2 linked regions of the Homo sapiens genome follow. The protein of the gene in region 2 purifies or fractionates together with the protein of the main gene of each other region. This does not show direct contact. Each region holds a gene or a part of one and is shown on either strand. Other genes may lie near its edges.

The links.
Region 1: the proteins of NLRP6 (region 2) and TRIM38 purify together in Homo sapiens (affinity purification with western blotting, with the first as the bait; one study listed by BioGRID). This does not show direct contact.

Annotation. Positions count from the first base shown.
Region 1 is NC_000006.12:25,983,052-25,986,873, reverse strand, and holds part of TRIM38 (E3 ubiquitin-protein ligase TRIM38), read right to left. Parts: intron 3,711-3,822; coding exon 3,187-3,710; 3' UTR 1-3,186. UniProt on the Homo sapiens protein: E3 ubiquitin-protein and E3 SUMO-protein ligase that acts as a regulator of innate immunity. Acts as a negative regulator of type I interferon IFN-beta production by catalyzing 'Lys-48'-linked polyubiquitination of AZI2/NAP1, leading to its degradation.
Region 2 is NC_000011.10:281,159-283,721, forward strand, and holds part of NLRP6 (NACHT, LRR and PYD domains-containing protein 6), read left to right. Parts: coding exon 1-681; intron 682-1,543; coding exon of another isoform or gene 1,544-1,546; coding exon 1,547-1,639; exon of another isoform or gene 1,640-1,709; intron 1,710-2,563.

The sequences.
Region 1 (3,822 bases), on a different chromosome or scaffold from region 2:
ATCCTACAACTTGGGTTGTGAGTATGATGGCTGGAACTTTAGTGGCTCTCTTGGATCCCAGGGGTAATTGAGGGGTGGCTGGAAGGAATCTGTGATTTTCTGGAGTTTCCATACACAAACAAGACCTGGATTTTCTGGGCTTCCCAGACTTCCACATCTAGACTTGCTTTAAATGGGAGAGAAATAAACTTGTTTCAGCCACTGTCATTTTGGGCTATTTTATAGAACTTAATCTAATCTTCAAGGGTACATGAATTGCTTTTCCTTAAAAAAAAAATCAGCCATAAAATCATCTTCTTTTTTCTTTTGTTCCCCACATTATTTAGTTGGAGCTCTGTAACTTTTTTTTTTTTTTTTTTTGAGACAAGGTCTTGCTCTGTCACTTAGGCTGGAATTCAGTGGCATGACCATGGCTCACTGCAGCCTTGCCCTCCTAGGCTCAAGCAATCCTCGTCTCAGCCTCCTGAGTAGCTGAAACTAAGGCACATGCCACCATGCCCAGCTAATTTCTTTTCTTTTAGAGATGGGAGCCTTGCCCAGGCTAGTCTCAAACTCCTAGCCTCAAGTGATCCTCCCATCTCAGCCTCCCAAAGTGACAGGATTACAGGTGTGAGCCACCATGCCTGGCTGCTCTGTAAGTGTCTGAATTTCATTTTGTATTTATCAGTCTGTTTAGATTTTCTTTCCCTTCTTGGGTCAGTTAGGCCATTGGTTTCTTTTTAAAGGTTTTCAAATTTATTTGCATCTAATTCTTCAAATTACTCTCAAAATTATTCCAGTATATATTCTTTTGTTCCTATTTTCTTCTGTATTCTTTATTAAAATAGCTAATGATTTATCTAGCAGGACTTATATTCTTTCCATAACTTTCCTGCACCCCAATTAATCTCCAATTTTATATTTCTTCTGGCCTTCCTTATAGTTTCCACAGGTTTATTTTATTCATTTTTTAAAACTTTTATTTAATTGTTTATTTTATTATCATTCTTTCTTATTCAGCAATCTAAGTGCTTAGGGATATAGAATTTCCTCTAAGCAGCATATGCTAGGCTTTAACAATGTTAGGGAGGCCTCCCCTTTCTGGGGAAGACCACACTTACATTAACACAGGACTGTGGGATGCCAAGAGGTAGAGAAGAGCTTATGAATATCCAGATTACATCTTCACTGATCCTGCACAAAGGTGGGGTTCCTCGGTTACCCACTGGGTCCTATTACCCAAGTCTGGGTCAGCATACCGAGACTACGGGTATATAGAACAAGTGCAACTGGCGATAATCCTTCTGTTGGGGAGAAAAATCTTTTTTTTCTATTCATCTTAGGTTCTCCATCTGTGGCCCTATCAAGTAGACTAACAAAAGACAGATTGACAAGACAGAAACAAAGCATGTGCATTGTACAAACACAGGGGAGTACTGAGATGAATACTCAAAAGAGGATTTAGAACTTGGGCTTATATAGCATTTTAAGAAAAGAATACATTTTTTAAGTGACAAGGAAGACGAAAAGGACTTTGAGTTTCTAGTGCAGTAAATTGTGGGAAGGCAACTTTTTCTTTCCCTTTTTTTTTTTTTTTTTTTAAAAAAAAAGACTTCTCTGGTGCTATGTCCAGGCTGATAAGAGTCTAAAGTCTCTGGTGACTAACTTTTGTTCTTCCCCGAGTAAGAAGACACCTTCACAATTTCATATCCTGCTTTTAGGCAAATAGGGAGAGGGCAGAGGTGTTTGTTTGTTTTTAATCTATTTTTTTTCTCAATTGTCTTCAACTCAAAATACTTCTTATGCCAAAGATGGCATATTCTGCTACCCTTCACTTACTACTTACAACCCAGCCTCTATCATCATAATTAGAACTTCTGACCCTGGGGAACATGGGCAATAGTTTGAACTCTTTTATATCTCCCTTAGGCAGAGATGGAGGCCCAGCCATGCCTCTGACATCTAGACACAACTGTTGCTTCATTTCTCCTATTCTCAGAGGTGATGTTGTAGGACTTCAACAAATATCAGTAAACATTAATTTTTTTTTTCCTTGAGGCACAGCATGATCTTGGCTTACTGCAGCTGCTGCAGGCTCAAGCAATTCTCCTGCCTTGGCCTCACGAGTAGCTGGGTTACAGGCCCCTACCACCATGCCCGGCTAATTTTTGTATTTTTAGTAGAGACAGGGTTTCACCATGTTGGCCAGGCTGGTGTTGAACTCCTGACCTCAAGTGATCCACCTGCCTCAGCCTCACATAGTTCTGGGATTACAGGCGTGAGCCACCATGCCTGGCCATCAATTTTTATGTCAACTCTAAATTATAACATTTAGCAATTTTGTGACTTTTTATGGTCATCATTAATGTTGTTTATGTTTTAGTTGTAGTCCTGTCATTACTCACTCGGGTATGGTAATTTGGTCTTTTTCAAAATGAAGTTAAGGTCTATTTGCTCTTCTCTGAATCATAATAAGAACTGCCAACAGCCATTTCAGCAATAACTATTTACTGAGATTTTAAAATATTTCAAGGTAATTGGTCCTAGCAGACTGGAAAATACCAAATTCTTTTCCAGAACTGAATCCCCCATCAAAGTTCAATTTTACTCATAATTCCCTTTTCATTTGAAGCATCTCATTGTAAGCCAGTCTTAACCCTTCTCTCACACTTTGCTTGGCTGTTTCTCAGGTAGAACTCAGTAAGTCTGGTAGCCTCCAGGACTGCCGCTTAGATTATTAAACAACATGTCAGTGGTTGGAAGAGTCAATGTTATTTTGATTTTTCTGTTTTGTTTTGTTTTAAATGCAGTTGGCGGATAATTGCAGCTTTCTTTCATTCCCTACATGAGTTCAAATGGCAGCAAACAAACTAGGAGAACGCAGACCTTCTGACTTGTGGGTACCCCTACTCATCACCTGAAGACCCTTGGAAATCAAAGCCCTGACCCATTAAAGACGGATGGAGACAGCAACATACGATCATCACTATTATCTTGCTTTGCCCCAGTCCAGGTTAACCATCTGTGGTATTTTTAGTTGCTAAGTCCATATATTCAACATAAATCAATTATATATCCACTAAAATCTCAGCACTAGTCTAACTACTAAGGAAATGACAGCGAAGAAAACAGACCAAACGTCTGCCCTTATGGGATTTATATTATTTTCTCTGTGCTGGTTAAACCAAGGAGCTTCTGCTCTTTTCCTTAGTCACCTGGGGGAGGCAGAAACAAAGGAGAATATTGATAAACCTGGAAATAGGGCCGGAGAGTATCAGAGAAGGAAGCCTTCGGGAAAGTAAAGATGTGGCAGCCAGTATTCCCGTTATAAAAGGATACAACTCCGGCCTCATAGTCCAGAAAAATTCCCACAAGCAGGGGCTGCTCATGCAGATGAAGGGAAGTTGGGGGAGAAGTAAGTGCTACATAGCCTTTCTTTTTGCACAGCCTGAGGGTCCAGAATCCAGACTGAGGCTCTTGCTTCATGCCAGTGCCCCTCTGCACATTTTCCATACAAACTCCTAAATCCCATCCGGTTCCTTCGCCAACATCCACTTCAAAGTAACGTCTTCCTGAGGTGAAGCCTTCACAACCCAAGACACAGGGGAAGGCAGTAAATCTCCTGGAAGATGTGTCCTGATTCTCCTGGGTGTATCCACGAGTCACTTGTCTCCGATCCTCAGAGAGAATTAGTTCGTGATGAGCTGTATCTGGATCCAGAGTCACACTAACTGCAAAACAAAACAAAACAAACAAAAATAATTTTGTTGCTGTGAAGAACACAGGTTATTTTATTTTATTTTATTTTGAGATGGAGTGTTGCTGTCACCCAGGCTGGAGTGC
Region 2 (2,563 bases):
GCAGACGCTGTTTCTCAGCAAAAAGGAGCTGCCGGGCGTGCTGGAGACAGAGGTCACCTACCAGTTCATCGACCAGAGCTTCCAGGAGTTCCTCGCGGCACTGTCCTACCTGCTGGAGGACGGCGGGGTGCCCAGGACCGCGGCTGGCGGCGTTGGGACACTCCTGCGTGGGGACGCCCAGCCGCACAGCCACTTGGTGCTCACCACGCGCTTCCTCTTCGGACTGCTGAGCGCGGAGCGGATGCGCGACATCGAGCGCCACTTCGGCTGCATGGTTTCAGAGCGTGTGAAGCAGGAGGCCCTGCGGTGGGTGCAGGGACAGGGACAGGGCTGCCCCGGAGTGGCACCAGAGGTGACCGAGGGGGCCAAAGGGCTCGAGGACACCGAAGAGCCAGAGGAGGAGGAGGAGGGAGAGGAGCCCAACTACCCACTGGAGTTGCTGTACTGCCTGTACGAGACGCAGGAGGACGCGTTTGTGCGCCAAGCCCTGTGCCGGTTCCCGGAGCTGGCGCTGCAGCGAGTGCGCTTCTGCCGCATGGACGTGGCTGTTCTGAGCTACTGCGTGAGGTGCTGCCCTGCTGGACAGGCACTGCGGCTGATCAGCTGCAGATTGGTTGCTGCGCAGGAGAAGAAGAAGAAGAGCCTGGGGAAGCGGCTCCAGGCCAGCCTGGGTGGCGGCAGGTGCGTCTCCAGGGCAGAGATACTCTCTTGTGTGTGAGGTGTGTGTGCCGGTGCAAACCTGTGCACCTCAGTGTCCATCTGGCATGGGGCGCACCTCCAGACCAGACCCTGGCTCCCCAGATGGGGAGGCTTTGACCACCTCCTTGCAAGGCAACCACTGAATTCCTATCTTCTTCCCCAGGGTGTCCTCACCATGCCCACCGTCAGCCACCCACAACCTATGAAAACTTCCTAGTATGGCCCTACAGCTCTGGCCCAGCCCTTCTTCCCATTTTACTTTCTGACAATAAGCTCTGGAACACACGATGCCCTCTGTCCAGAGCCTCTGCACTTGCCCTTCCCTCCACCTAGAATATTCTGTTTGCTGCCTGTCCTGCAAGTCTGCCCTGGCTCCCCCAGCTGGCTGGGGACCCAACTGGCTCCAGAAGTACCCTTTCGACCACCCTGCTGTGACATCTGCCCCACACCTCCACCAGACCCTCGGCTCCTCCAGGGCAAGGCTTTTGCCAGAGTTCCTTTGAATATAGCTCCAATTCAGCCCCTGCCCAGGGGCTTGGCATCTGTTGAGAGGATGAATGTCACGGTGTTGGCAGGGGCTGGGCCTGGGGACCCAAAGACCCATGTAGAGGATGTGGGTGATACCGTCCCACTGACCTCACTCAGACACCCCAGTGGGATGATGCCTGGGCCACAGATGAGTGGTTTTGCTCTGGGTTTGGTTGGGGGAGTGTGAAGGGGGTGGCTCAGCAAGGAGGTGAGGAGGAGGGGCAGCTCTGAGACCCCAGGACTACAGATAGACAGGAGTCCTTTCCGGCAGGCACTGTGAGGAGCAGGGTGGGCTTCACCTTCCTCTCTCTCCCAGCAGTTCTCAAGGCACCACAAAACAACTGCCAGCCTCCCTTCTTCATCCACTCTTTCAGGCAATGACTGACCCACTGTGCCATCTGAGCAGCCTCACGTGAGTGGCCACACCCCCAGCTCTTCCCACGGAGCGGGCTGAGAGCAGGATGCCCTGGGCAGAGACGGAAGTATGACCTAGGAAAGAAGGCTGAGGGGTCAGACCAGAGCCTGAGGCCTGTGGGTGCTGGAGATGGCAGGCTCTGCCCACACAGAGCAGAGGGAGGAGGGGATGAGGGTCTGGGGCTTCATTACCAGGTTAGGTACTGGTAGGAAAAGGTTGGTCCTGGTGAGTGGAAAGCAGCTAAGCACACTGAGGGAGGGATTAAAGAAGACAAGAGTGTATTTTCCTTCTGAAGGGAGGCTGCCGTTGGAAACTGCTGGGTTCTCAGAAGCAGTGGAGGAAGGTGTTCAAGCGCAGGCTCCAAGGTCAGGCTGTCTGCAAATGCTAGCCGGCTTCTGCGTGCCCAGTAGCAAGTCCATCTGTCCGAGCTTCCATTTCCTCCCCTGTGAAATGGAGCCAGTAGATCCAGAGAGTTGGGGTGAGATTTAATGTGGCTACACATGTACAGTTCTTTTTTTTTTTTTTTTTTTTGAGACGGAGCCTCGCTCTGTCGCCCAGGCTGGAGTGCAGTGGTGTGATCTCAGCTCACTGCAAGCTCCGCCTCCCGGGTTCACGCCATTCTCCTGCCTCAGCCTACTGAGTAGCTGGGACTACAGGTGCCCGCCACTACGCCCGGCTAATTGTTTGTATTTTTAGTAGAGACAGGGTTTCACCGGGTTAGCCAGGATAGTCTCGATCTCCTGACCTCGTGATCCACCCGCCTCTGCCTCCCAAAGTGCTGGGATCACAGGCATGAGCCACCGCGCCCGGCCACATGTACAGTTCTTACATGGCAATAACTTGCCAGTCACTCTTAGCTACCACCAAGTGAGCAGAAAGGAAGAGGAAATCTAGGAACTAGTACTGATGGTGAAACAGGTC